3 separate regions of the Homo sapiens genome follow, and all the other regions are linked to region 2. Evidence: fine-mapped expression QTL. A gene starts in region 2. Each other region holds a variant in brackets. All regions are shown on one strand. Distances are from middle to middle. Region 1 overlaps GABBR2 (gamma-aminobutyric acid type B receptor subunit 2). Region 2 holds the start of ANKS6 (ankyrin repeat and sterile alpha motif domain containing 6). Region 3 overlaps GABBR2 (gamma-aminobutyric acid type B receptor subunit 2).

Region 1 (10,248 bases), 250 kb after region 2:
CTTCACACCACCTTGTGGTTTAAATGGCATCTGAACAACGTGAAAGAGGGTGCCAGGCCCTGCCACATATTTGGTTAAGTCAGACTAAATTTATTCGTGATTTTTCTAATACTTTTACTAAACTGACTTGAACTTTATTTTTGCAATATTTGAGAACATATGGTTTACTAAATAAATAAATGGCATAAACCAAAAATGAAAAAAAAGGGTATTTGGCTACTCAATAAAACATTTGGTACCCAATAAAACATTTTTTTAGCTTTCCTTTGAAACTATCAAAACATGGAAAAGAAGCCAGGCACAGTGGCTCACGCCTGTAATCCCAGCACTTTGGGAGGCCAAAGCAGGTGGATCACCTGAGGTCAGGAGCGCAAGACCAGCCTGTCCAACATGGTGAAACCCCCATCTTTACTAAAAATCCCAAAACAAAAAGAAATTAGCTGGGCATGGTGGTGGGTGCCTGTAATCACTGCTTGGGAGGCTGAGGCAGGAGAATCGCTTGAACAATCGGGAGGCGGAGGTTGCAGTGACCTGAGATTGCACCACTGCACTCCAGCCTGGGCGATAGAGCAGGACTCCATCTCAAAGAAAACCAACCAACCAAACAAATAAACAAACAAAAAAACATACACATACATACACTCTCAAGGAACCAAGAGACCCCAATACTCATTGATATTCTAGATGTTTAGAAGCTTCATTAATTACAAAGTAGATGGCTCTAGATTGAGAAAATCCTAAGCTTTGCTTCCTAGCATTCCAAACCTTGCCTCATAAAATAACAATTGTGTTGAAAATTAACAGGTAGACCTTTTCCTTTCTCCCCTACAATCTGAGTTAGACTCAGGACTCATATCAACTAGAAAATTGGATAGCTATTGCCTCTACCTAACAGTTGCTGATCTCTGAGACAACCAAATTGCTTTTTTCTCTTTATTCTCATCTCTCTTTCACTAAACTCAGACAGAGCTATACATTCCTAGGGGGAAAAAAAACCTGGATGAGAAGAGGAGGGGAGCACACTAGATGTGAATTGCATTCTGGGAAGCAGAGACTTCCCACATGAAATTTTTTAGGCAGGAAAGAAAAACCCTAGCAGCAGTGCAGGAAGGGAATTTAATGTACTGTGTTGATCTAGAGTATTAGAAAATTGGGCACTGAGGGTAAAAGATGATGTCACTTATTTAATGTAGACCAGCCTAAGGTGAAAGCCTACTAGACACCAAAAACTGTGCTTAAATACTTATTCTCCGGCCTTCTGAGAAGTATATGCAATTAAAACGTAAATAGAAAACAGGGCCAAGTGCCGTCCACATGTGTCTCTTGATAAGCCCAGCCTGAAAACACTTGCTTTGCTTTTGAGGATTAATAAATTTAAAACACCTTTGAAAAAGTACTTCAAAAATAATGAAAAAAAGCAGAGTACTCAGAAGAAGTGGAGGAAGAGTCCATCTCTGAAAATGATCTATTGTAGGATAAAGAAGAAAACTTTAGAAAGATGTGTAGCCTCCCCAATCATATGCAGCAAAGCAGGCTCCATGAAATAGCCTGCAATTGGAGGATGGGGCGAAAAGGGAGATGATCATGAAAAATTCATAGGAAACTAAAAATGTCAATAACACAATACAAATATGTTAAAGTCAATAAGGCTTAAAACTGAGGCTGTTGAAAAGCAAGTCAGGCAACTCACAGAACAAAGAACCCGAATAGCTAACATGTCTATGTATCACCACTCAGCCACATTCCAGGCAAAGCACTGCAAAATCAAACAATAATGAAGTACCACTTTATCTCTGAAAGACTAACAAAAATTAGGAAGTCAGATAATATCAAATACTGGCCAGGATGTGAAGAAATGAGAATACTTATGTCCTACAGCTAGGGCTGTGGGTACAGCCATTTTACCAGAAAATAGTGAAAGCTAATATGCACATACCTTGTAATAAAATACAGTAAAATAAGATGCTCTTCTAGATTGAGGAGGACAAGGACTAAGAGATGCAATTATGAAAAGAAAATAGGACAGATATGGATTTAGAGAATGAGGAGACAACATACAGATAATCCTGTGGCCCAGAGGAGAGACAAGAATATATAGGAATATAATATAAATATATATATGATAAACATACTACATATGCTATATTTATTATGTATAATATATACAATATTATAAATGTATATGTAATAAATATGTTAAATATATTATAAAAATATAAATATAAAACAATATACACAATATAAATATAGCATAGTCATTTTATATATATATATTAGGTTTTTTTTTACTGAGTTGGAAATACTTGAGTGTATGGATTGTATACAGGTCGTGTATAGGGCTCTCTTTATCCCAAATAAAATCAAGAGTGCGATTTTTTTGAATTCCAGGAATAAGGGGAAAAAAAATCTTTCAGGCTTCCAGGTAGAGGAAACTGGGTACCTACAAATGAACGACAATCAGTGACAATCAAGCCAGCCCCAAATTTCTCCTCTGCATCACTTTGTAGTTTCAAAGGGGAGAAATGGTAGCCCAAGAATTTCATGCCCAGCCAAATTCTGCCGTGTGTCAGTGCAACACAGGGCCATCCTCAGTAAGTTGTCAACCCTTTATCCTTCTCAAGGTACCTATTAAAAAGTACTCCAGCGGGCTGAGACCTGAGGCAAGATTAATTCACATAGCCAGAATAGAGAAGAATAGATACAAAGTTGAAAACCAGCGGGAACAAAAGGAAACAAAAAAAGGGAAGCATTAAAAAAGAAGAGATGGCCAATGAGATGATAAATGCAAGGCCAAATATTTACTACAGCAATAAACATACATATTTTAAAATCTGTCCATATGCTCTTTTCAAGATGTGTATTTAAAAACAATCTTAATAGAATATGAATAAAAGGAGGATAAAAAAGTGACAGGCAAATGCAAGCAAAAATACAGTAAGGGTTGCAGTATTAATAACAAGCGTGATACAGTATCAAACAAAAAGCAATAAAATGACAAACAGGTTTATTTTATCTTGATAAATATTTCAATCTTCACTCGCTCAATGAATATCTATTAAGTGCCTGTTATTTGCACTAGGCAAAAGTATATATTGCTGAAAAATGAAGACATAATTGTGATGAACATTTATGCTCAAAACAAGATAAAATGAACACATAAAAAGCAAAAACAGTTGAAATACATGAAGAAATGGTCAGAGACAATAGAAAAAAGTTTAACAAACTTCTCAGCCTTTGATAGATCAAGTAAACAAAAATACAAAGCGTATGATAATATAATTAGTTTGGTTATATCTATTATGCATAAGTAGTCTAATAAAGAATTCTATAGCTTATGACTATAGATTTCATCTTTTTTCCAGCCACCATGGAACTTGTACAGAAGTTGATTGTATAATAGGCCACAAAGAAAATCTCAATAAATTCCAAAAGCAGACACTGCACTTGCCAAATTCTCAAAATAATGCAATAAAACTAGAAATTATAAGAAAACTAGAAATTAAATTTTAAAATACTCTCCGAAATAAATCCTTGGCTAGGAATTAACTCAAAGCCTCAATCACAATCTGTTCAGAAACAAACTTGGTTATGCGAAACAAGGCAGGAGAGCTCAGAAAGCTTGGTCTCCAAGTTAGGGCCCTAATGCTAACAGCCCTGGTGATGCCAGATGCTGGGTGACTGTGCTAGGGGAAGAAGGCCTGGGGAGCATGTAGGAGGCAGGTAGATAGTCATCCATGGGAGAAAGCGCACTAGTGTTAGGGTCCTATAGACCCGGGTTCAAGTCCTGCTTCTACCTCTTATTAGCTGTAGTGGAATTTTGATATCTTATTTCGGGGCTGCAGTCTACTTATTCCAAACCAGGGGTGTGGAGCTGTATCTGTGGTCCTCAACCCTCACTGAGCATCATAATCACCTGGAAAATTTTTAAATAATACTGATGCTTGGGCTAGATGCCCAGAGATTCTGATTCAGTTCGTTTGGAGTGGGACCAAGTCATCAGTATTCTTTAAAATCTCCCCCAAATAACTCCAGTGTGCCAAGAACCCCAGAGCTAGATGATTTCTCAGATGTCTGTTAGTTTTGAAGTCCAGCAGTGCTACTGGGCACCTGCAGTTTTTGCCCATGGAAGAAAGTTTCAGGAGGCTAAAGCCAGAGTAAAGCCAGAGAAACAGTGACGCAAAGCAATCTAATCAAAGCGTGCATTATCTCAAATGGTGCAGAAAATGTCAGTGCCAGTTAATATTTTGCACCCAACATGATTTAGACCCGGGGCACATATTGTACTCCAAGCCTATTGTAAACCCAATGGGCCATTTATTCACTGAACAGTAACCACGGTAATTACCCACAGGGAAAACATGAGGTTGTTCAAGCAACAATTAATTGTGGACCTGGAACTAATGGGACAATAATGGTAAAGTAGCAACCAGAGTGTGATTAAGAAATCACATCAGAAAGCCAATATTTTCCAAATTGTATTAGATAAGGATTTTTGGGGATGTGATGGTATATATAATGTCCCTGTCCTGAAATAGTTCCTCCCAGGTTTTTCTAATAGCTCCTTCTCCCACTGGTGAGCATAGGAGGCTTGCAGTGTTTTTAATCTTGTGAGAAGAATCACAGACAGTAGGTTTGAGGGGACTATAGAGAGCTTTATTTCCCGCACTCACTACGGGACCTAAATGTCAACTGAAGGCAGGTGTGCAGACCTTGATTTGGTTGGAATGATCCTCTTTGTGAATATGATGGAAGCCACTGATTCTTTTTTTCAGAAAAATGTGCATGTCTGTCTGCACATACATGGCCATGCAAATCCTTTCCTACAGTTTTCAGGGGGTTCACAGACACTTTGAAGCCCTTCTGTTCTCACTAGGTTGTGGTCCAGTCTTTGCTTGCACACCTCCAGACACAGGGATCTCACTACTTCTGATGGCAGGTTTTCCAAGGCCAGACAACTCTGATGTGAATGTTCCTCAATGTGTCCAGTTGAAATTTCCCTCTCATTAGTCCTCGTCTACCAAGAATCTTTGAACACTGACAAAAGTCATTCTACCTTTGACCTTTACCGGTCTTGGGGTGTCTCTCTGTTGGATCTTAGAAGATGGTTTCTACGGGGGCTCTGTAGCTTCAGGTAATGGCTGAATTACTGTTGTGTGGTCAGCTCCAATAGATAGGAGATCCAGCAATTCTAGAGAGTGGCTGTCTACCCTCTGAAACAGACATGGAAAGGGACAAATCTCTACTGCCCCCCACAAACTTTTGTAAGGGGAACGTGGTTCTAGGGTGACAGAAGAAGCGGTAAAGCAACTTTAGCTGGAGGCTGAGGGTACCAGGATGTTATTTCCCTGGATGCTTAAATTGGAACCTAGGATG[G/T]ATCAAATCCAGAGCTGCTGCTGGGACAAGCAAGGGTTTGGGGAGATGGCTGGTGGCAGCAAAGATTGAGCTTGCTTCATCCATGCCCTCTCTGGATCAAAGATTTGAATGAAACAAAAGAAGAGAAGGAGGGAGGGAGGGAGGGAAGGAGGGAGGACAGACAGACTAGAAGAAACCATGGAGAAATTATTTTATAATCTCAGAGTAAGAGAGGCCTTTCTTAAATATGACATAAAACCTGAAGTCATAAAGGAAAAAAACTGATAAATTCATCCTCATTAAAAAAAACCGTGATTACCTGGAAACGGCACTATAAACAACATCAAGAAACAAAGTACAAACTGGGAGAAAAATTAGCAACTTATATCATAAAGGGCTAATTTTCTTAATATAAAAGATCATTTCTATAAACTGATAAGGAAGACTACTAGTCAAATTAGAAAACAAGCAAAAAATGTGAACAGTTTCCAGAAAGGAACTACCAATTACTTTTACACATAGGAAGAAGCTGGGTGCGATAGCACACCTGTAGTCACAGTGACTCAGGAGGCTGAGGCCAGAGGCTTGAGCCCAGGGGTTCAAAACCAGACTAGGCAACATAGTGAGGCCCCTTCTCTGACAGATTTTTAAATTAGCTAGGCATAGAGGCATACACCTATAGTCCCAGCTACCCCGGAGACTAAGGCAGGTGGGGATCGCTGGAACCCAGGAGTTCCAGGCTGCAGTGAGCTATGATAGCAGCATTGTACTCCAGTCTGGGCAACAGAATGGACCCTGTCTCTAAATAATAAATAAATATATATATAAATAAAATTAATATAACAAAATAGAAATATTCAACTTCACTCACTCTAAGAAAAATGCAAATTAGAACTATAACCAGATAACATCTTTTCACCATCATACTGCAAAGATCAAAAACTTTGATAACTACCTTCTGTGGCTGAGGCTGAGGGAAGGAACAGAGATCAGAGGAAGTGTTATGGAAGGGGTGGCATTTAGGTTGGGCCTTCAGGAACAGACAATTAAAATCCAACTTAACAACTTAACTGGCACTTAAAAGAAAAAGAAGAAATAATAAAGAGAACGATGGACAGCTTTGACTATCGAGTGTAAATTAAAATACACACACATAAAATGTAAAGGCAAACTGAGATATTTGCAGCAACTATAATAGCCTGAGTTTGAACGCTATATATATAAAATATCTTCATTAAATTCAATCTGAAAAGCATTAGAATACCACTCAAAAAATAAACAAAGGACATGAAAAAGTAACTCCTAAAATAGGATATGCTACTAGTTAATAACCATAGGGAAAAGTTCAGCATTATCTATAACCATGAATGCGATATGATTCAGGGTTTTATTTGGTGATAAATCATTATAAAATTAGACAGAATAACATTTTTTACTCCCTGTGTTGGCAAAGATGTGGTGAGACTGGCCCTCTAATCATTCCTGGCTACTAAATTTGCAAACCGATAAAATGTTTTTTGGAAATAAGTATAAATCTTTAAAGACTCATATTCTTTATCTGGAAAATTTTACATCACAGACTCTATCTTATGGAAACATCCCAAAATATAAAACAAAAATGCTATGTACAAAGATGCCTGTAGAATAATATGATGATAATGACAAATTAGAAATAATCGAAATAACCCCAAATTAGAAACGATTCAGTAAATTTATGGTATATTCATATGCTGGAATATTGTGCAGCTATTATAAGGTTTACGAAGAGTTTTTAAGGATACCGTTAAATGGGGAAAAACAGTTCAATTGTGCATGTAGAATGATTTCAGGATCTTTTTTAAAAAATTCAATCACTGCATAGAAAAAGGACTGGGAAGGAATAGACGATAACATGAATGATGGTTCTTTAGGGAGGGGTAGATCATTGGCTATTTTTTCCCTTCTTCCTCCTTATTTTGCATTTTTAAACCTTCCCTTCCATTATGATATGTTACTCTTACAATAAAAAAGTTTTAAAAATATCTGTCCCTGTGTGTTTATGCTCTAAGTTGAAGCTAACAGTCTCTATTCCAGTAGGAAAGATGCTGGGTCACAGCTGTGAGGCTCATCAGTAAAAAGCGTTGTCTCTTTTGTGTTTTTCAGCTTTCTTTTGCTGCAACCACGCCTGTTCTAGCCGATAAGAAAAAATACCCTTATTTCTTTCGGACCGTCCCATCAGACAATGCGGTGAATCCAGCCATTCTGAAGTTGCTCAAGCACTACCAGTGGAAGCGCGTGGGCACGCTGACGCAAGACGTTCAGAGGTTCTCTGAGGTACGCTCGGCTTGTGTGGACACGGCCTGCCTTACTGCTTGCTGCTGTCATCTAGCAAAAGGCAATGTGGTTTAGTCAGGGATGGGTACTGTCACAGGGCTTTTAAGCATGTGTTGGTTAGTGCGATCAAAGCTGTTTCACCGTTGACAAAATAGAGCTGGTAGCTGAGGAATTTCACTGTGCATAGGACTGGTGGAAACCATCATCAGGAGTGAACCTTCCCTTTCATTCTTTTTATTGGCTACCTCGTGTGGCTTATTCCCTCAGTGGCCCTGTGGGCTTGTCTTTGTTACTGATGCTGTCGTGACCATCTAAGATCACAAAGTTCTACCAGGGGGTGTGTTCATCTGTGAGGAGAGTTTTGGGGAAGGGCTGGCTTGGACCGAAGATGCCAATGTCACCTTGGATGGGGTACAGAGTTTTGTTTGTTCTAAGTGACTTACAAACACACCTTAATATATGGTAGGCAATTTTTTTGTTTTGTGTATGTGTTTTGTTGTGGGGGAAAAAAAAGCCAAAATATGGGTAGTAAAAAATGTAAAAGTGTTGCTTTGTCCTAAGCCACCTGAATCATGCTTTCTCTCTGAAAGTTAACTCCTGCTTTCACTTAGGGGTTCATCTGCCTAGAACTTTTTCAATGTATTTGTTTTAAAGCCAAATGACTTCATATCATGTATGTTTCTTTTTTCACTTTACAACAGATCTTAGAGGTCTTGATTAACCTCATGGTTTAAAGGGACCTGGTGTTCTGTCAGATGGGTATATCGTAACTTACCGAGCCAGCCCCTCTGAACGTTGACCACTTTTCAATGGGACAACCATACTCTCATGGCTAGGTGTGCGTCTTGGCAGTAGACTTCTAGAAGTGGATTTGCTGGGCCATTTAAAAATTTGAGAAGGACTGACTTCCAAAAAGGCAGTTCTAATTTCTAGTCCCACCAACAGCATTTGAAAATTCCCATTTTCACATATCCTTACTAACAGTGGATATTAACAAATATTTGAAACATTAGCCTCACTCAGATGAGTACAAAATGGCCTCCTGTCTTTTTTCCCATTTGCTTTGTGCCTCCTCCTCTCCTTTCTATTCCCATGTGTGCTTTTGATACTTGGAGCCTCCAAAAACACAAGACAAACCAAGTGTTCTTAGCAGCCCAAGAGAAACAAACTTTAGCCGTGTGGAGGATTTCCATGTGTGAGTCAGGGGTCTAGACAGACCTCAGCCGGAGCGGTGGGGGCAGACACACAGCCTCTTGCCAGCCTGGGAATGGGGAAAGGCCGGGCAGGGTGGCAAGAAAGTTGGGAGTAGAACAGGGCTGGTAATCAGCAGACCTGGTTTCCACTGCAGCTCTGCACTTACCTTCTGAGGTTCTTGCCCCCTGTCTCTTCCATGGGAAGGAGAGACCACTTCATACATTGGCTGTGTGACCTTGGAGACGTTACCTTGCTTCTCTGAGCTTCGATTCCTCCCCTGTAAAATGGGGACAATAACTTCTTGCATGCCTCCCTGCAGGGCTTCTGCCAAAATCCAATGAGTAATGGATCTGAAAGAGCTTCGTAAACTGTAAAGTTCATACACAGAGAGGGTTGTTTTTGGAGGTGCGTGAAAAGTGGAAGTGTTTGGCCCCACTGTCTGTGGGTATCCAAACAAGGCAAGCTTTTCCCAGGCAAGACTGCTCGTCATCTTCCCACCTCTCTGTTTCTCAGCCCCTAGGAGGAGGCACAAAGGGAACTTGACCTCCAGCGGGAGTGACTCATTGCCAAACGCTGAAGAGGCTTTTGCTGAAAGGCCGCCTTCATAGAGAAGCGAGAAATGTTCTAAAATGAGAGTGAAACAAGTGGATGGTGGAGGATAAGAAGGACCCATCCCATGGCCCCATTAACACTGGACTCTACTAGGATTTAGAGAGACTTGCTTTTTCCTTTTTCTTTTCTTTTTCTTTTTTTTTTTTTTTTTTTAGACGAAGTCTCACTCTGTCACCAGGCTGGAGTGCACTGGCGCAATCTCGGCTCATTGCAACCTCTGCCTCCTGGGTTCAAGCAATTCTCCTGCCTCAGCCTCCCGAGTAGCTGGGACTACAGGCACGTGCCACCACACCCAGCTAATTTATGTATTTTTAGTAGAGACGGGGTTTCACCATATTGGCTAGGATGGTCTCGATCTCTTGACCTCTTGATCTGCTCACCTCAGCTTCCCAAAGTGCTCCCAAAGTGGCATGAGCCACCGGGCCCGGCCAGACCTGCTTTTTTCTAATAGCATCTTTGGCTGTCAGAGCCTGAAGGACCCTTAGAGACATATCTCCTACCCTCCTCATTTTGTAGAAGGGGAAACTAAGGCCCAGAGAGGGAAGGGGACAAAGTTCAAGGTTTCAAGGCACCTCTGAAGTCATGAAAGATTGTTCACAGAAAAGTCAGGACTAAATTTTGGGGTCCTGAACCCCTCAGTTCAGACTTCCCATTTCTCCTTCTTTTCTTCTCTAGCTTCCTGGAATTGCATAGGAACTACCTGCATATAGCCTAAGAGGTTTGAAATTCCCACCAGACTGGTTCTAAAGGGGGTAAATTGTGAGCCCTGACATTGGT
Region 2 (10,248 bases):
GCCTGGGATGGTAACAGCTCTGTACTATTACCAGCCCTGGAGTACTGCACCATCCCTTGTGGCTCTTAGTAAATCCTGCCTATACTTCTGTAAATGGTCCTTTAGTAAGCATTCCCCAGCTCCTCAGCCAAGTGTGCCATCTGTTTCCTGGTGGGACCCTGGCTGCTACAAGCGCTGTCCAATGCAGTATTTTTTATAAGAGCAGAAAACTGGAAACAAGCTAACTGTGCTTGTTTCTGTTTGTTTGTTTGTTTGTTTGTTTGAGAGTCTTGCTCTGTCACCCAGGCTGGAGTACAGTGGTGCAGTCTCAGCTCACTGTAACCTCTGCCTCTCAGGTTCAAGCGATTCTCGTGCCTCGGCCACCTAGGTAGCTGGGATTACAGGCATGTGCCACCACACCTGGCTATTTTTTTTTGTATTAGAGATGGGATTTCACCATGTTGGCCAGGCTGGTCTTGAACTCCTGGTCTCAAGCAATCCACCCCCCTTAACCTCCCAAAGTGCTGGGATTACAGGCATGAACCGCCATACTCGGCCTCAACTGTGCCTTATTCTAAAATGATTAAATGGGCTGGGAACAGTGGTTCATGCCTGTAATCCCAGCACTTTGGGAGGCCGAGGCGGGTGGATCACTTGAGGTCAGGAGTTCAAGACCAGCCTGGCCAACATGGCAAAACCCCGTCTCTACTAAAAATACAAAAATTAGCTTGGTGTGGTGGCGGGCATCTGTGATCCCAGCTACTCCATAGACTAAGGCAGGAGAATCGCTTGAACTCAGGAGGCAGAGGTTTCAGTGAGCCAAGATTGCACCACTGCACTCTAGCCTGGATGACAGAGTGAGACTCCATTTCAAAAAATATAAAATAGAAATAAAAATTAAATGATTAAATAAATTATGGTACGTCTGCTGAATGGTGTTTCATGCTATCATTTATTTATTTATTAAAATTTTTTTGGAGATGGAGTCTCGCTCTGTCGCTCAGGCTGGAGTGCAGTGGTGTGATCTCGGCTCACTGCAACCTCCACCTCCCAGGTTCAAGCAATTCTTCTGCCTCAGCCTCCCAAGTAGCTGGGACTACAGGCACATGCCACCATGCCTGGCTAATTTTTTTGTATTTTTAGTAGAGACAGGGTTTCACCGTGTTGCCCAGGCTGGTTTCAAACTCCTGAGCTCAGGCAATCCGACTGCCTCAGCCTCCCAAAGTGCTAGGATTGATTACAGGTATGAGCCACATCGCCGGGCCGCAATCATTTTTTTAAAATGCAGCAGTCTGTATTTACCTACATGGAAAGGTGCCCAAGACATTTGTTAATGGAAAAAGAAAAAAAAAAGCAAGATTCAAGAATAGCATGCGTAGTATGAACCCATTCATTTACAAAAAAAGTAAATTATCCATTTGTTAAGGCTTGGAATGCAAGTGACAACAATGCTGCTCAAAATAAACCTCACCAAAAAGAATGTGGGGAGGGATTTTCTAACTTAGTCTCTTTCTATCACTTGGTTTTGCTTTCTTTTGTGGTGACTTCACTCTTAGGCAGGCTGTCTTCAAGTGGTGGCAAAGTGAGCACCAGTTTGGCTGACATCCTGATAGCTGGCAACCTCAGCAGAGAGGGCCTCATTCTCAATTGCTTTAGCAAAAATCCTGGGCTGGGCTGGGCACAGTGGCTCATGCCTGTAATCCCAGCACTTTGGGAGGCTGAGGGAGGAAGATCACTTGAGGTCAGGAGTTTGAGGCCAGCCTGGACAACGTGGTGAAACCCCGTACCTACTAAAAATACAAAAATTAGCCGGGCATGGTGGTGGGTGCCTGTAATCCCAGCTACTCGGGAGGCTAACGCAGAGAATCACTTGAACCCAGGAGACAGAGGTTGCAGTTTGTGGGGTGCAATTGTGCCGCTGAACCTCAGCCTGGGAGAGAGAGTGGGACTCCGTCTCAAAAAAAAAAAAGTCCTGGGCTGAAGCCAATCAGGATATGTGCTAACCACTGAAGCACACAGACTGTGAGTAGGGAAGAAAGGCTTCCCAAAAGAAAAAGGGTGTCCAGAGGGAATATTTCATAGCAAACACTTGTTATCGTTTTTGACTGCCCAGCATCTGAACCCCCTTCCTACATTTGGGAGTGCCCTACCTTCTGAAGCAGAAACTACCTCCCGCTATTATATGAGCACATGACCCAAGTTGGGCCAGTCAGGCACTGTCACCTCAGCCTCTGAATCTGAAGCCAGGAACACCAAAAAGGGCCTGAACCAACCCCATCTTCCTACAGGGTGCAGCTGCGGCATGAGATTTGGGTCATTGTTCCTGGCTTTGGGGCCTCCAGAACTGGTTCTCAGGCTCTCATGGATCTGTGAGCTACAGAAGAACCTTGTACTAAATCCTGCAGCTTTTCCAGCACCTAAAACAGTGTCTGGAAATGGCAGGCACTCAATACATATTTGTTGAAAATGGAAAGAGAGTTGGACTCGATGTCAGAAGACCTGAGTCCTACTCACAGCTCTCCTGCAGAATAGTTGTGGAGTCTTTGGCAAGACACAACCTCTTTGTGCCTCGGTTGCCTCCTCTGCAACCTAGGGATGATCATCTGGGCCCTCCCCGGTGGATGGCAGGCGTGCAATGAAGATCAAACGTGGGTCTCCAACTTTAGCATGCATCAGAATCACCCAGAGGGCTTGTTAAAATATAGGTTGCTGAACCCACACCCAGAATTTCTGATTCAGTAGATCTTGGGTAGGGCCAGAAAAATCTGCGTTTGTAACAGTGTTGCAGCTGGTGATGGTGCTACTGCTGTGTGGGACACACTTCAAGGACCGCTGATAAAGAGAGAGAAGGTATTTCATTTTCTTTGTGACCATTGTAAATGAGGTTGTGTTCTTAATTTTGTTCTCAGCTAGAATGTTATTGGCATATCAAACTGCTATTGCTTTTTATACATTGATTTTCTGTCCTGAAACTTTACTGAATTTGTTTATCATTTCCAGGAGCCTTTTGGCAAACTCTGTAGGGTTTTCTATGTATAGATTCATACTCTCCGCAAAGACAGAGTGTTCGACTTTTTCTTTTCCTATTTGAATGCCTTTTATTTCTTTCTCTTACCTGGTTGTCTGGCTAGGACTTCCAGTACTATGTTGAATAGGAGTGGTGAGAGTCTTCTTCCAGCTTTTGCCTGTTTAATATGATGTTGGCTATGGGTTTGTCATAGATGGCTGTTATTATTTTGAGGTATGTTCCTTCAATGCCTAATCTGTTTTGAAGATTTTTATTATAAAGGGATGTTGGATTTTATTGAAGGCCTTTTCTGCATCTATTGAGATGATTATATGGTTTTTGTTTTTGATTCTGTTTATATGGTGAATCACATGTATTGATTTGCGCATGTTGAGCCAACCTTGCATTCCAGAAATAAAGCCTACTTGATCATGGTGAATTGACTTTTTGATGTGCTGCTGGATTCTGTTTGTAGTATGTCATTGAGGATTTTTGCAGCTATGTTTTTCAGGAATATTGGCCTGAAGTTTTCTTTTTTTCGTTGTGTCTCTGCAAAGGGCATGAACAGACACTTCTCAAAAGAAGACATACAGGCAGCCAACAAACATATGAAACAAATGCGCAACATCATTAATCATCAGAGAAATGCAAATCAAAACCACAATGAGATATCATCTACACCAGTCAGAATGTCAATTATTAAAAAGTCAAAAAACAATAGGTGCTGCTAAGGCTGTGGAGAAAATACACTGTTGGTGGGAATGCAAACTAGTTCAGCCACCGTGGAAAGCAGTTTGGAGATTTCTCAAAGAACTTAAAATAGAACTATTTGACCCAGCAAACCTACTACCAGGTATATACCCAAAGGAAAATAATTCATTCTATCAAAAAGACACCTGTATATTCATTGCAGTGCCATTTACAATAGCAAGGGTATGGAATCAACCTAAGTGCCCATCAACAGTAGATTGGATAAAGAACATGTGGTACAGAGCCAGATGTGATGGCTCACACCTGTAATCCTGGCACTTTGGGAGGCCACAGCAGGTGAATCACTTGAGCTCAGGACTTTGAGACCAGCCGGACAACATGGTAAAACCCTTTCTCAACCAAAAATACAAAAAATTAGCCGGGTGTGGTGGCACTTGCCTGCAGTCCTAGCTACTCGGTAGGCTGAGGTGGGAGGATTGCTTGAGCCTGGGAGGCAGAGGTTGTGGTGAGTAGAGATTGCACCATTGCACTCCAGCCTGGATGACAGAGCAAGACCCTGTCAAAAGAGAGAGAGAGAGAGAGAGAGAGAGGGAGAAAGGGAGGGAGGGAGGGAGGAAGGAAGGGGGATAGGGAGGGAGGGAGGGAAGAGAGGGAAGGAATGAAAGAAATGTGGTGCATATACACGATAGAATATGATGGAATACTACGGAATACTATGCAGCCATAAGAATGAACGAAATCATGCCCTTTGCAGCAACATGGATAAAGCTGGAGGCCATTATCCTAAGCGACCTAAAAAGAACAGAAAACCAAATACTGCATGTTCTCACTTATAAGTGGGAGCTAAACATTGAGTACACATGGACACAAAGATGGGAACAACAAACGCTGGGGATCGCTAGGCCAGGGAGGGATGGAGGGGACTCTGGGCTGAAGAACCTCTTGGTGGGTATTATGCTTACTGCCTGGGTGACGGGATCGTTGGGACCACAAGCTTCAGCGTCGCGCAATTTACCCATGTAACAATTTACCCATGTAACAAACCTGTACCCTTTAATCTATAATAATAGTTGAAATAAAAGGTGGGGGAGAGAGAGAGAACAGGAGGCGCTTTTAGCCCCAGCAGCCTGGCCCAGATGAAGGAGCGACATTAAGGGCACCGCAGGACACTGTGAGGAAACAATCCGTTCGTTCCTTAATTCAGCCGCTTCCTTATTCTAGAAGGGCAGGTTCAGTGCCAGGGGCTGCGGTGGGGTCAGCGGAGCCCGCTAGTAAAGTCAAGGCCCACGCAGCTGCGGACTCAGACCCGGGCCCAGGGCCCTGACCACAGCGTGAAGAGGGGATGGCGTGGCCGCTCCCACCTCTGCCCTGACAGGAAGTTTCTGGAGCCCCGGGACAGGGCGGCGAGAGGGCGCCGAAGAGGCAAAAGGGAACACGCGGGTCTGCGGCGGGCGCTCCTCTGAGCGTCCCTGGACTCCCGAATACGGGCACTGGAGGTGCGCAGCCCCGGCCCTAGCGCGCTCCCGGCACACAGCAGGCGCGCGGCCCTAGCCCCGGCGCGCTCCCGGCACACAGTAGGCGCGCGGCGCGGGCGGGTGGCCGGAAGGGGGCGCCTGCGGGCGGTATCCGGGGGCGGAGCCGACGCGGCCGGCGGGGCGGACGGGAGCGGGCCGCGCGTGGCGGCGGCGATGGGCGAGGGCGGGCTGCCCCCGGCCTTCCAGCTGCTGCTGCGCGCGTGTGACCAGGGCGACACGGAGACGGCGCGGCGGCTGCTGGAGCCGGGGGCGGCGGAGCCAGCCGAGCGCGGCGCGGAGCCGGAGGCGGGCGCGGAGCCGGCGGGGGCCGAGGTGGCCGGGCCCGGGGCCGCAGCGGCGGGGGCAGTCGGGGCTCCGGTGCCCGTGGATTGCTCGGACGAGGCGGGCAACACCGCACTGCAGTTCGCCGCGGCCGGGGGCCACGAACCGCTGGTGCGCTTCCTGCTGCGCCGCGGTGCCTCGGTCAACAGCCGCAACCACTACGGCTGGAGCGCGCTCATGCAGGCGGCCAGGTGAGGCGGCGGGGCCCGGGGGCCCGGGACCAGAGTGGTGCCCGGCGCTGGCCCGAGACGCGGTCCCCGGCGGCCGGATGCCCCGGGAGGTGAAGAGTTAAGGACTCCTTAGAGTTGGAATGGTAAACTTTGAGTAGTCTTTTGTAAACTTTGAGCATAGACGTGGAAACACTTTTGAATTAACATAAAATCAGATTCTTAGAAATTTTGGCCTTTCAGAATAGAATCTGGAGACAGCGAATAGAATTGTAGAGACTTAGAACCTTAGAGATTTAATTCATTTCTTATTGCAGTAAGAGTTTCCTCAGAACCTGCCTTCCCTTCCTGGCTTGGCGTTGAGGGTGCTGCGAGACCCAGGCAGAGTCCCCACCCAGGGCATTGGTGGGCAGGCCAGGCAAAGGAACGAGCTTGACCGGAAAGGTTTGAGTAGCTGTGGGGCAGGTGACCCATTTTGGAGACGTGGGGGAAGGTTTCTGGTAGAAAAGATGTTTATATCCACGTGGAGACCTGCGGATACCTGAGAATTAGCCAGGACATTACAAGTGGGCTGTGGGAAGGCATGATGGGAGGCCCATGCAAAGGCTTGGGTGCACGAGCTGGTAGGACTGGTAGAATGAGGTATGCGTAGAATGTATGAGTAGAATGATGTACTAGTCCTCCCTGGAGAGAAGGCAGATGCCAGGGAGTTGGGGGAGTGTGGGAGCTGAGAAACGCTAGCTATCCTAGGGTGCTAGGGAGTCATGGAAGGTGCTAGGGAGTCATGGAAGGTTCTAGGCAGAATGAGTGACAGGATGAGAGTTACGTTTTGGAAAAATTACTTTCCTTGAAGTGTGAGAATAGATTAGATACTCTAGGGTAAGCTAGAGTCAAAAAGGCTGGTTAGGTAGAGTTTGCTGCAGTCTGAGTGAGAGGTGATGGTGGCCTAGACCAGAATGGAGACAGCGGAGGGAGGGCACCCAGATGAATTTGTGATATATTCAGGGAGTAGATCAGCAGGAGTTGACGACTGGCCCTTGGGGAGGGGTTAAGAGAGACAGCAAGGATGGCATCTAGAGATCTGGCTTCTGTGAAGCCTGCCATGATATCTCCCTGTTCTCTGGTCCCTCCGCAGCAGAAAGGCCTCTGTGGTAGCATCCATCACACCATGTTAATGCTGACTGGCTTCCTCAGTACCCAAACCTGGCCACACATCAGAATCACCAGGATGCTTGTCTAAGTGCAGATTCCTGAGTTCCTTTTCTGGAGATTGTGATTTAGAAGGCCCAGGGCAGTGAGGGGAGTAAGAGACAGGGACTCTGTGTGAGAAGAGGCTCCCCAGTGATTCTCTTGTATGGTAGGTTTGGGAGCCACTGATGTGTTATGTGTGTCTCATCTCTGCAATCCACCAAGTGCGTGCACAGGGGCCCTGGTGAGCCCCCTGAGGAATTTACTGAGTGAGGTTTGTGACTACAGCACTGACATGCCTCAGAGTGTCTCAGAGACCCCAGATCATCAGTTTTAACCAAGTTCTGCAGGATAGTCTTGAGCCTGGGTATTTTAAAATGTGCTGTTCCTCAGTTGGTGTGACACCGACTCTATATTCAGGTAGCATCTCTGCCTGTGTTGAGTTGTGCTCCAGCTTTCTGCTGCGTAATTCATAAGAAAAGGTCAAGTTGAGGAGTAGTATATATGGAAGACTTCCAGAAGGATGTACAGTGTGTCTGTCCCTCACATCGGGGTAGGCAAATGAATGGCCTGTGTGCTGACACCTTCCAGCCTTGTGCTCTTCTTCCTTGGATCTGGATACGCCCCCAGAATCCTGCTCAAAACCACACCCCTGGCAGCCACCACGCTGGGTCTGAGCAAGCATCTATTTATCGTCCCAGCTCTCTGTGTGGATCAGGCCAGACTATTAGACACCCTGTGCCTTTGGTCTTTTGTGGGTGTTTTAGTATTAGAAATGGTGACCTTAGTGTTTTTTCCTGTTCTTTTTTTTTTTTTTTTTGAGACGGAGTCTCGCTCTGTCACCAGGCTGGAGTGCAGTGGCGTGATCTCGACTCACTGCAACCTCCGCCTCCTGGGTTCAAGCGATTCTCCTGTCTCAGCCTCCGGAGTAGCTGGGATTACAGTCACGTGCCACCACGCCCAGCTACTTTTTGTATTTTTAGTAGAGACCGGGTTTCACTGTGTTGGCCAGGCTGGTCTCAATCTCCTGATTTCGTGAAACGCCCACCTCGGCCTCCCAAAGTGCTGCGATTACAGGCGTGAGCCACCGCGCTGGGGCATGTTTTTTCATGTTCTTAAAATAATAGGTAACCTTTGGCCAGGTGCGGTGGCTCACGCCTGTAATCCCAGCACTTTGGGAGGCCGAGGCGGGCAGATCAGGAGGTCAGGAGATCGAGACCAGCCTGGCCAACATAGTGAAACCCTGTCTCTACTAAAAATACAAAAATTAGCTGGGCGTGGTGGCACGGGCATGGTGGCACGCACCTGTAGTCCCAGCTACTCGGGAGGCTGAGGCAGGAGAATCGCTTGAACCTGGGAGGCGGAGGTTGCAGTAAGCTGAGATCGCGCCACTGCACTCCAGCCTGGCGACAGAGCGAGACTCCATCTCAAAAAACCAGAACAAAACAAAACAAAAAACAACCTTTATTGAGCACTGACTTTCTGTCAAGCACTGTGCTAAGTGCTTTAAATGAATTAAGTCATTCAATCCATACAAAACCTTAGGAAGGAGGTACTATTGTCATCCTCATTTCATAAATGAGGAATTGAGGAACAGAGAAGTTAAATAACTTGCTCAAGTAACATAGCTACCAAGTGGCGAGTCAGATTCACACCTAGGGAGGTGGCTCCAGAGCCTGTGCTCCCAGCCATGAATCCTGTAACTGATAGTTTCCCTCTTGGTGTTGGTGCCTGGAAGCGGCTTGCCAAATTTGCCAGAGACTTCTCTCCAAGGGACAGGGTTGCATAGTGTTTACCTTCCTTCCCTACCCTTCATTTCCTGCCTGCCAGTGGGGCAGAGCTGGACTCTCAGCCCAGTGCTTTGAGAGGGGAAAATGTGTGCCAGCTCTTTAAACACAGGTGTTAATTGCTGAAATTCATCAGTAATCACAGCACCTGTTCAGAAAGCCCCTAGCATGCCCATCTCCGGCAGTTACCTATTAGAAACTTAGCATCCACAACATTATCTCAGCCTTGCTTGGATCCTTTTATATTTTCAGCATAGTTGAGTGCTCTCTTGGGCTACTCACTAATTCAGAAAACATTCCAAATTTCACTATTTCTGCTCTAATTCACCCCTTTTCTTCCTCCTTAAAAATTGGTTATACTGGAGCTTCGATTTTGAGTCCAGGTGCAACTTTTGACTCTATCACGTTCAAATTGAGAGGCTTTAGATTAATTGCTTTCCACTGTAATCTTCAGTTTCCTAATCTGTGAGTTTATCTCGGGGTTTATTAAGATCAAATGAGATAAAAATGTGACGCACCTTGTAATCTGCTGTTAGGGATTATGCTAGATTTTATCTCATGCTTGATAACTAAATAGTGTAATCTTTTAGAAATGTACTACAGTGGAGGATACACCAGTTCTTCAGGGATTTCCACTGCTCACCTCTGGACCTTCCCCTATGTGGTTATGCCATTTATGCATTCATTTACTTGGCTTGTTTGACCAAATTTACTGAGCTCCGATGTGGATCAGCCACTATGGTAGGGGCTGGGGAAACAATATGCGTGGAACCCTGTCCTGTCCTTGGAGAGCCTGCCACTGAATAGGAGAGACAATTAGGGAAAGAGGGCTCACGTGCAGCCAGAGGCGAGCCCGTGGAATTAGGTGCTCAGAAGAGGGGCACTGACCTAGCCTGGTTGAGGGGTGGTCTGGAAGCTGCTCAGAGTGGGTGAGATATGACTCCTGAAGCAGGACACGGTGGGGGTGTGCTGAGTAGATGAGGACAGGAGAGTCCTCTGGTGGGGTCAGGATGGTGAAGGTGTGGGGAAGGCGGGAAGGTGTGGTTTGGGAGCAGGAGGAAGTGAGGTTGGCAAAGCAGTCAGGTCTTCGGCAATCAGAAGCTGGGGAGTGACAGATTTGGGTTTGGAGAATATCATTTGGGAGTCGCATGGAGGATGGGCAGGAGGGAACGAGACTGGAGGCGGGGAGACATTGGGGTGCAGCTTTCTGCATTGAGTTGGTTTCAATTTGCCTTGTCCTTTTCCACTCTGGGAGTGGAGGTCAAGAGGCCCAGCCCCCTGCAGCTGATGGAGCTGTGTCACCAGGCTCTTGCTTCGTGGCTGAGTAGCCCCATGCTGTTCAGGTTCACATCCCAGAAGGTATTCAGCCGGAGCCTCAGACAGAGTTCAGCCCTGGCCTGGCCGCCAGCCGCCAGGAGGAGGGAGGTCTTGGGTTTAGATGAGGTGCAAAACTGGCTCCCGGGAAGGAGGGCTGAGCATCGAGAAACCCAGAAAGCTGCCTCACAGATGCAGACATGACAGTGGCTTTGTGGTCTCGAAAACCTGGAGTAGAC
Region 3 (10,248 bases), 310 kb after region 2:
CCTCTTTCCAGAGGGCTCCTCTTCTCTCTCTCCATCTTATCACAGCCTCTTCTTCTGACCTCATCCAACGCTTCTGCTTCAACATCAAAGGAGGACACTTTTAAGCACTCCCTTTGTGCCCACAGATTCATGAATTCACTTCATCCCCACAATAACTCTACAATAGCAGTCAGCAAACTACAGCTCATGGGCCAAATCCGGCCTACTCTCTGTGTTTGTAAATAAAGTTTTATAGGAACACATTCATTTACCACAACGTCCTTGGCTGCTTTTGTGCTACAGCGGCAGAACTGAGTAATTGCAACAGAGACTATATGGCCTATGAGACCAAAAATATTTACTATCTGGACCTTTATAGAAATTGTTTGCCACCACCTGCTCTGAAGATAGGTACTATTATTATCCCCATTTTATAGGTAGAGAAACTGAAGCTCACGAAAGTTTAATAACTTGCCTGAGGCCATGAAGCTGATTAAGTGACTGAGCTGAGATTCTAGCTCAGCAGTCTAGCTACAGACTGGCTCTTAACCTCCACGGCATGCCTCCCAGCTTCGTGTCCACCCACACTCCTCAGTCAGCATAGCCTCTCAACATTCCAAGGTTACTCATACCCAACATTTTTAAATGACCTGTCTCCCCCCATTTCTTCTTAGTAACAAAACAGGAATGAAAGGGCTTTGCAACTTACTTGCCTTAAGTGGAGGAGCGGTTAAAAAAAAAAGTGCTAGGGAATGACAGAAAGACAGAGATAAGCAGAAAGCTCTCATCTTTATTTTTTATATTGATGCAATATTTGGGCCCCAGTGCAACATCATGAAGACCCTCTAAATTGAGCCAGGCTTTCTACTCTTAAAAAAGGAAAAGAAAATATGTCTGTGCCATTTAGAGCCATGTTTGGCTTTCTTTTTTGAGTGACTCACAAAAATAGCCCAATTCTCCAACAATATTAGTGGGGATCCTTATGCCTCACATTAAGGGGACAGCTTTGACCAGAAAAGCTACTCGACTAGTCAGCAACAACTGAGTGTCCTAGAACCCCAGCAGAGAGAGGAGGGAGACAGGATAAGCCCAAGGTAAGGCCTTTCCAGAGAGGGAAGTGTCTTCATTTCCCATTGCTGCTGTGAAAATCTGAACAGCTTCAAGCAACACAAATTTATCTTACTGTCTGGAAGCCAGATGTCCTACATGGATCTTGACAGGCCAACATCAAGGTGTCAGTGCGGCCAAGTTCCTTCTGGAGGCTCTAGTTCCAGTATCTAGAGGCCACCTGCATCCCTCAGCTGGCATCCCCTTCCTCTATCTTCAAAGTGAGCCATAGTCAGTGGAGCCTTTCCCACACTGTATCACTGTCTCTGCCTCGGCCATGTTTAAGGACCTTGTGAATACATGAATACATTTAAGGACCCTGTGAATACATTATCACCTGGCTAATCCAAGAAAATCTCCCTATTTTAAGATCAGCTGATAAACAACCTTAATTCCATCTGGAATGTGAATTTTCCCTTTACCACGTGACATAACGTACTCACAGGTTCTGGGGATTAGGATGTGGCCTTTTTTGGGGGACTGGGGGAGTGGGGACAGGGTCTCACTCTGTAACCCAGGCTGGAGTGTAGTGGTGTAATCACAGCTCACTGCAGCCTCAACTTCCTGGGCTCAAGCAATCCTCCCACCTCAGCCTCCCAAGTAACTGGGACTACAGGCATGCACCACCATACTCAGCCTATATATATATATATATTTGTAGAGACAGGGTTTCTCCACGTTTCCCAGACTGGTCTTGAACTCCTGAGCTCAAGTGATTCTCCTGCCTTGGCCTCCTAATGTGCTGGGATTACAGGCATGAGCCACTGAGCCCAGCCAGGATGTGGCTATTATTCTGCCTGGCATAAGACAACTACAAAGGTAGGCTTTGAGAGGACTGCCCTTCCCTTGCTCCATGGTAAAGTCCTAGTGGGAACTGTGCTCTCCCTCTTGACTCTGGCCAAAAAAAAGTCCTTAGGGAATTGACCCCCTTTTTTCCCAACCAGATAGGAGAGACCTGATGAGAACTGCCACTCCCACAGGCCAGGAGTCCATCCTGACTGCCTGAAACTGAAGTTCATACAGGCACCCCAAGGGGACGCAAAGCTGCAGAATACACATGGTGCATCTTTCTCACAGGCCAGGTTTGCTCAGAGACATGGAGACGAAAAGGTATTATTTTTAACTTACGACATAGATATATTATTAGAGTGTTAAATATACATGAATTTTCAAGATACAAGAATAAACTTTAAAGAAATGCCATGCTTTCCACTGGGCTGCTGTGGGCTATTCCCTCTTCGCTCCCTTCCTTGAGAGTGAAGCGTATGCCTTCACTGCCTTTACGGACAGAGTGAAGCATATGCTTCTCTGCCTTTATGGACATTTCCAGTGGGGGGTGGGGTCTAAGTAAGACAAATTTTAGCTAAATAAAAGGGACTACTCATTGTGGGTATGGGATCAGTTTGTCAGAGCCAGGAGGGACTTTGGAGAACATTCTAGGCTGAACTTCTAGGGCCCACTCCAAGTCTACAGCCAGACAGTTGGGGCACAGGACTGGCCTGGGCTTCCGAAGCCTTAGGCAGTGCCCGCTGGCCCAGGTCATGGCCAGCCTCTAACAGCTCAGCTGCCTTAGGGGTTTATAGCATCTCCTCTCTTTATATAGCATTGTGACATTTGAATTTTCAGCAGCCCAGCACAGTAGGTAGTCTGCGAGGCTAGGCTCTGAGAAACCAGGATGCCATTGAGTGGACCTAGACAGATGCATGGGTGGCAGGAGATTCCAGACAACCCAGAGGTCAGGGTCAGGCTCAGGGTCGAGCTTGACCTTCCTTGCAAGAGTCCATGCTCCACAGGCAAGGAAGGCTGGCTGGAGGGCGTGGTCCCTCATCTTCCTCACCTCTGCTGTCCTGCACTCTTAAATGCACACCAGCAATTTCAGTGGCTCAGGATTGCATTTGCCATTTATATCCTTTCACTTCAACATCTGCATGACTTTTCTCAGTTAGCTGTTGCTGCAGATTGAGTGCTGAGCTCCAGCAGCTCAGACCCAGTGGGGTTTGCATCCTCAACTGGGAGGCGGTAGATAGGAGCGAGGAGTCAAGCACTCAGGCTCTGGGACCACACCCACCCGGGGCAAGGCCAGTGCCACCACCTCCTATTTGTGTGACCTGGCATCTTAGGTTGAAGTCCCTACAAACAGAGCCTGAGATGCTTGGGAAAGTAATTTATTGTGGAAGTACTCAGGAGAAGGGGAGGGAAGCAGGATGAGGCAGGAGGAGCTCTGTCTTGGATGGATACCAGTTTAGCCTGGCCCCACAGGGGTCTCCGGAGCACAGACAGCACCACAGAGCTGATCCTAACTTTCAGCAGGGGGGCCGGAGTTTTCCACCAATGTGAGTCAGTTGTTGGTTGCTCTCTGTGGGGTGTGGGGCATGGAGTGGCTCCCATGGCCAGGAAGCTCCCCTTAGCTGAGGGCAGTTCTCCAGAGAAGGGAGTGAGCTGTCAGCAGCCCACCCTCACTGCAGCCGGGCGGGTGTACCAGCCCCAAGGAGGGGACTGCACCTGGGAAGTTTGCTTAATTCTTTGGACCTTGCTTTGCTCATGAATCTTTCCAAAGTGAGCATAATAACAGCGCCCACCTCCCAGGGTGGGGCTGACGGACTGTTTAGCACAACAGCTCAGAAAGGGCTTGAGAGTTGTTATTTTTATGATGTTAGGATTGCTTGCAAACTGGGGGTACATGCTAGTTCTTTGAATTGGGTTATCCTTGCTAAGTGTCATGTGCGTGCGTGAGTGTGTGTGCGTGCCTGTGTGTGTGTGTGCCTGCGTGTGTGTATGTGTGTTTAGCTCTCTTTAAGCATCCCAGAGACAAAGTGGTTCTAGATGAGGGATGAGACAGGGTCAAGAAAAAGAAAAGGAAAGCTACCCAGGGTTTGGCAACATTAGACTCCTCTCCAGAGGGAGTTTAGTGGGCCTCTCCCTCACTCATCCTGTCACTGTTGGGGGTTTGGGCTGAATACCCCTCCCCATTTTCCTACCCCATTCCCACCGCTGTTTCCTTCCACTTTTGCCCCTTTCTTGTGATAGTAGCCTCTTGAGGGTGTGAACATAGGTCTCCATGTATGGTCTCCAACCCTAGACCTGGCCATCTCATTTGCCCCAACTCAGGTCATCTGCTTTCACTCCAGGAAGCTCCCTGCAGAGCCAAGTCCCTGGAAGGGCACAGGATTTTCCAGACCCTGCCCTCTGCCACGTTTCCAGTCCTTTGTGATATCACAGCTCTGATCTGTCACTGTCATCCTCAGGGATGGTTATGGCTGCCCCTCCCTACCCCCTACTACTGCCTAAACTGCCCCAAGCCCTTTCAGCATAAGAGAATGGGCCCATACCCTGGCAGGGAGGCAGGGGGCTTGTCTGAAAGCAGGGGCTACTGCTATTCCCAAATTTCTTCTTTCTACTCTCTGGACTTTCAGGAAAAGATACAAGCTATGCAACATTGAAAAGCATGATTCTGGAACTTTCATGAGAGCATGCACATGTGTGGAAAAACTATTAAGATTCCCCAAATCCAAAACCTTTCCCCTAACCCCTGAATCTTCCAGTAAGTTGCTACTTTAGAAAGGAGAACGCAGTATATCTGCACTTCCTACACTCGGGACACCTCCTCGTGCTCTAGAATGCACATACCCTAGTTTGAGAAGCACCTCAAACTGTTTATACTGCTCTATGGTGCCCCCCAAGATCCCCATCCAGCCTCATCCCCCGTTTGGCCTCTCCCCAACCCTGGATTCCGGGCTGCTCCTCCTTCCTTCCAGACTTGGCAGCGTCTTTCCCCCTCTTTCTCACCGTCTAGAAGCAGAGTATGTGTTCACAGCTTCCTGCAGCAGGCATGACCTGGCTCTGCATAGGATCTGTCTCCAGGGCCCTCTAATGGTCAAGGAGAACCAAAGTGAGAGCTCTGGCTTTCATTTTGGTTCTGTGGAGCCCTGGGAGAGCTTGTACCTCTCTGGGAAGAGATTAGCTAGATGGGGGATCCCACGGGCCCCATCCAAATCTAACAGCCTGGGAGCACTGAACAAAGTGGTCCTTGCAACTCGGTTGTCATAGCAACAAAGACACCAAATGGTTCACAAGTGGCAGAGCTGGTTATTTAACTGTCAGCAGGTGGTCAGGAGGTCAGCTATGAAGATGTGGGTCCCTCGATCTACTCAAGAAGTGGACATGGTGAGCCCAGGGTCTAGACCATGGGGTTGGTCAGATATTAGTGCAGTGATGATAATGGCTACTAGTGACCAAATAAGCAGCGTAGGCCAGGCATTGTGCGTGATGCTGCACACTGGATTAATTCACTTCATCGTGCATTCAACACATATTTGTTGACATATGTGTAGCGCCCTGTTCTGGGAGCTGGGGACTTAGAGATAAGTCAAGTTACGCTTACTTCAGTGGGGAAGACAGACAAGTAAGTGGACTTGAGCCACATTGGAGGCAAGCACAGGGTGATCCAGGCTCACAGAGGAAGAAGTGGCCACCAAGCCTGATGGGGCAGAGAGATGGTTTCTCAGAACAGAGGAGCCTGGGCTAAGGTAGGAAGGGTGAGTAGCAGCTGTGCGGGCAAAGTAAGTGGGAGGAGAGGGAAGGGCACTCTGGAGGGATAGACTTGCAGAATGGGTGGGGGGCGAAGTGGGAATATGAATAAATGAATGAATGAATGCAGTCCTGTTTTAGGACTCACTGCCAAGGCAGGGTATGAGAAATGTGATAGAGAATTGAGCACAAGTCAGTTGGTAAAGACTGCATAGGATCTTTACCATCTCTATCTTTAGCACATCTTGAATGTGCTAAGGAGCTCAGTGTTTGATCTGCAAACCTCAGGAAG[C/A]CATGGACAGATTTCACACAATCAGACTTGAATCTAGGAATGAACCCTTCCTCTGCTCTGTGGCGATGGGTGGATGGGGCAGGATTCATGGCAAGGGTGCAGGGAGGCTGTTGCTGTTCACTGAGTAAGGAATGATGGTAACCAAACTCAGGGCAGTGGGGCTGGAGGGTTGGGACTGATTAAGGAGCTAGTTGTGAGCAGACAGAACCAACAGATTCCAGTTATGGCTTGGATGAGGGTTGAAGAAGAGGAGTGAGTCTAAGATGACTCCCAAGTTCCTGACATTGTCAGAAATGGAAAACACAGGAGGAGGAAAGGGCCTCTTGGGAAAGCTGGTGGATTCAGCTTGGGACATGTTGCGCTGGAGGTGCCTGAGAGAATCCAACTGGAAGAGTCTGGTGGGAAACTGGAGAAAATCTGAGGCTGGGGGGAGAGATTTGGAGTCCACAGCACACAGAGAACAGTTGTGGCTGGGGTCATGAACTAGGTGGCCCAGGGAGAGTGATGGGAGCAAAGAGCTAAGGACAGAACACCAGCATTTAGGGATGGGCAGAAAGGTCAGGAGCTGATGATGAGGAGTATGAGCAGGAGTGGCCAGGCAGGCACGAGGGGAGCCAGCAGAGAGCAGCATGGAAGCCACCGGGTGAGTTTCATTATGATGAATTGACAACCACTGGGCAAGGTAGATAGGATTATCCCTTTCTCAGAGATGAAGGAATTGAGGCTCCAGGAGATTAAGAAGCAAAGTTTTCAGCTAATCAGAGGTGGAGCTGTGATTTGAACCCAGGTCTCTGACTTCAAAATCTAATAAGCTGTTTTTACCATACCATGTTTAGCAACACAGGGTTTGGCACAAAGTAGATGATCAATAGATACTTGCTGGATGAAAGGATGGATGGATGCATGGGTACTGTCAGCAGCAAAAAATGCTAAAAATTTTTAACGAACAAGCAGAAAGATCTTGGAGCATGCCTGGAAGCAAGTCCACAGAACGGAAGCAGCTTAGAACTTTTTATAGCATTGCAGACGTGGTGATGACAAAGGCTTGCCTTCCTTCCACTGCTCTGTTAACGATCTTTTAAAGTCCTTTCAGAGCCAGTGTTTTTTTTCCCCTCTTCTTTCCATTCTTGCTTGCAAACGAAAGATGATTTTAGAATCCAGGCCTTCTTTATTTTGCTAAAGTACATGATGAGTAAAATGGCCTCTCAGTCAGCACTTTCCAATTTTGAAAGATGCTAAAAACTGATCTTTAAAAGCATATTTTTCTACTTTATGCATCAAAGGGCCATGAGGCCTGCTGGAGGGGATGGATGAACTGCAGGAAGGTGGCACCACCTGCAAGGCTGGGCCTCACTGTGGAGGGCAGGAAGCGGCTGGGATGGGGAGCAGGTGTTTGGGCCAGGGCCTGGCTGGTCTCCTGGTGGCCGCCCCACCCGTTCTCTTTCAGCCTGTTCTTCTCCATGGGACAGGACGCAGCTGGATCCCAATGCCCCAGAAAGCAACAAAGACCCCATTTACCTGACCCATGAGAGCCTCTGGCTGATGCTCAGTAATTGTCTGTTGAATGAATGAATGAGTCACAGGGGTCACTGTACACATTCCTATTAACCACACTGAGATAATGAATGTAATCCCATGTATAGAGCTTTCAAAAATAGATTTTCCTTAGAAATAAAGGTGGACACTCACTATGTGCTAGGCACTGTGTTAAGCACTTTACAAGGACTATTTCACTTAGTCTTCCCAGAAATCCGGTAAGGAACGTACTACCATTATCCTCATTTTGCAGATGAGGAAACTGGGGCTGAGATGGAAAAGGAGCGACCAGAGGCCACCCATGGTTTGTTGGTAGAGCTGAGATGCGAACAAAGCTCAAAGCAAGTCTGAAACCTCTTAATTGGGAAGCTCTGTAGGCTCCAGGAATTTCTTGAGGGATTAACTATCAGGAAGGTAGAAAGGGCTAGAACACTGTGCAGGGCAGCAGAGTGTGGTTGGCTGGGGTCTTGTCTCTGCCACAAACTCCCCAGGGGCCTTAGAAGCTCCTTTCTCCTCATCTGGCCTCAGTTTTCCTATATGTAAAGTGTGGAAGAAAGTTAGATGATGCTTCCATGGACTGCAGGATTTGCCTGCCCTGGTGGGAGGAGAACAGGGGAGGTTGCAAGGCCCCTGAGAGCAGTCAGCTTTAGCCTCCAGCCTGTACAGACTTGCCCTAGGGCTTGCCCATGAGACCAGGGTGGACTGACTGCAGGAGCCACAGGAAAGCCAGCCCTGGAGAGGGCTAGAGAATCCAGGCTGGGCTGGGGTTGGGGGTGAGGTTCTGCCCTGCCCACCTTCCCAGGCAGAGCTCTGGGCTAAGAGCCAGAGGTGAAGGAATGTTGTCTGCCACAGCCTTGAACCCTTTATGGGGTGCTGAACATCTACTCACCTTCATGATGTGTCCTTCCATCCACAGGGGAATGATGTGCGGATCATCCTTGGCCAGTTTGACCAGAATATGGCAGCAAAAGTGTTCTGTTGTGTAAGTAAAACAGTTGTATCATTCGTGTCTTTGGGGAGGTTCACGAAGCTTTTTCCCATACTCATTATCTCCCTGCTCAGTCTGTGAGTGGGATCACAGGACTGGAGCCTGGGTTCCTGGAAGCAGAAGAGTTGCGTTCACTGTTCTTTCCTCTTTCCAGGGAGCTAAAACCCCAGGGCTCAGAACAATACCATCATCGAGGAACCAGGGACCTCAGTCTAACCCATAGTCTAAGCCTTGTTGGCTAATTCTAAGTCTGCTCAACTTAGCCAGGGAGATACCAGAAATCAGGGTGAGGCTGAAGTGACTCAGACCCCCTCCCTGCCCTGTAGGTAGGGCTCAGAGTCTTAGGTTAGGGACAAATTATCAACTATTGATTTTCTCCTCCTGAATCCTTTACAGCTGTCTAGTGACAGATGACAAAGGTGACCTTTTTATGCCTTATCTCATTTAATCTTTTCAATAACCATGTGAAGCAACTATGATTTTCCCATTTTACAGATGAGGAAATAGAGCTCCATAGAGTAAAGGGACTTGTCCAAGGGCCCTCAGCCAATTCATGGCAGAGCCAAGGCTCCATCCCCATTAACCTGATCCCCAATCTAGTCTCTAAAAAAAAAAGGTTTTCTCCATATGACTTCTAGCTTAAGTTAGATGTAGGGGACAGAACACAGGAACTAAGTCAGTTTCCATTTTGATGTCCCAGCTCCCAATCCTCCCCATCATGTCAGGAGAAAAGTCAACAAAATGAAAGCCCAGGCAGGTGAGTCACTGTCTGCCCAATAAGCTTCACCTTTTAGACTGAGGTCATTCTAGGCGTAGTGTCTGGTGACGGGCCGCAGATCTCTGATCTTTTTGTCAGTAATGTGGATGAGGTTATAAATAGGAATTCTAGAAATCATGAAATACATTGGATGACAGAGTTTGAGTGCAAAGAACTTTAACAGGTTGGAATGTTTGATTAAATCCAAGCAGAGTAAATGGTCCTAACATATTATATTAGAACAAATGAAGCTGCCTAAGTCCAAGTGGTAGAGGGATAGCTGAGGAGTACTGTGTGTTGAGAAGAGAAGGGACTTTGGATGTTCCAGATGACCCCCAGTTTACTACCGGGTCTGGCAACTAAGGTCATCAGCATGAGCACAGTGCCAGAGAGCCGAGGTGACCTCAAATTGCATGTCTACACCCAGGGCAGGGTAGTCCCTCTGCTCTTTGCTGGAGAGACCCCACCTAGGGAGACCTGCCCAGCTCCTGGTGGCCTGTTTTGGACAGATGTAGGAATTGAAAAGAGACAAGCAGCGAGGATAGGGTAGTGGCTGCAAGCCGTGGTCACGTGTGGTTATTTGAACCTGAAGGCTCAGGAGCAAAACGAGAACTGTCCGATCATCTTCTGATTTAGCCGGGAGAAGGGAGAGGCTGTGAGGCTGACATTTCAGGGGATCTTGGATGGAGGCTGGCACTCAGGAGCCAATCAGCTTGGGCTTGAGTCCCTGTTCTGCTACTTATTATTGAAGTTGGGTATGTTGTTTACACTCTCTGAGCCCCAGTTTCTCATCTGTAAAATGGGGATTGTAACACCTGTCTGATAAGATTGTTGAGCAAAAACCCTCTGCATAGTACCTCATGTACAGTGAACCCTCAGCAGATACCAGCCATCTTTTTTTGGTTGTTTATATAGGGTCTCAGGTGTCCAAAGATGGAATGGGCCACCATTTACTGGCAAGTTTTATGGGTAGATTCCACAAAATTGTGTTAAGCATTCTATTTATCAGTGGAGAGTAGCAAGAGGTCTTTCCACATTGAAATCGAAGGAGGACCATGAGAA

The links. PIP is the estimated chance that this variant, and not a neighbour inherited with it, causes the effect.
Region 1: its variant is the best candidate, but not a certain one, in a credible set for the expression of ANKS6 in lung (TOPMed, PIP 0.70).
Region 3: its variant is the best candidate, but not a certain one, in a credible set for the expression of ANKS6 in whole blood (TOPMed, PIP 0.88).

Annotation. Positions count from the first base shown.
Region 1 is chr9:98,539,290-98,549,537 of GRCh38, reverse strand. GABBR2 (gamma-aminobutyric acid type B receptor subunit 2) reads left to right here. Exons shown (of 19, transcript NM_005458.8): 3 at 7,495-7,665. Among named protein-coding and RNA genes, the nearest start is that of GABBR2, 160 kb to the left of the region's middle. The variant G/T (reference allele first, on the strand shown) is at 5,374.
Region 2 is chr9:98,791,629-98,801,876 of GRCh38, reverse strand. It overlaps ANKS6 (ankyrin repeat and sterile alpha motif domain containing 6), which reads left to right and starts at 5,322. Exons shown (of 15, transcript NM_173551.5): 1 at 5,322-5,744. The coding sequence starts at 5,386. It overlaps LOC124902229 (a long non-coding RNA gene), which reads left to right. Exons shown (of 2, transcript XR_007061689.1): 2 at 2,268-3,429. RefSeq lists enhancers at 5,058-5,558, 5,559-6,059 and a silencer at 5,180-5,799.
Region 3 is chr9:98,479,107-98,489,354 of GRCh38, reverse strand. GABBR2 (gamma-aminobutyric acid type B receptor subunit 2) reads left to right here. Exons shown (of 19, transcript NM_005458.8): 5 at 8,358-8,423. Among named protein-coding and RNA genes, the nearest start is that of GABBR2, 220 kb to the left of the region's middle. The variant C/A (reference allele first, on the strand shown) is at 5,906.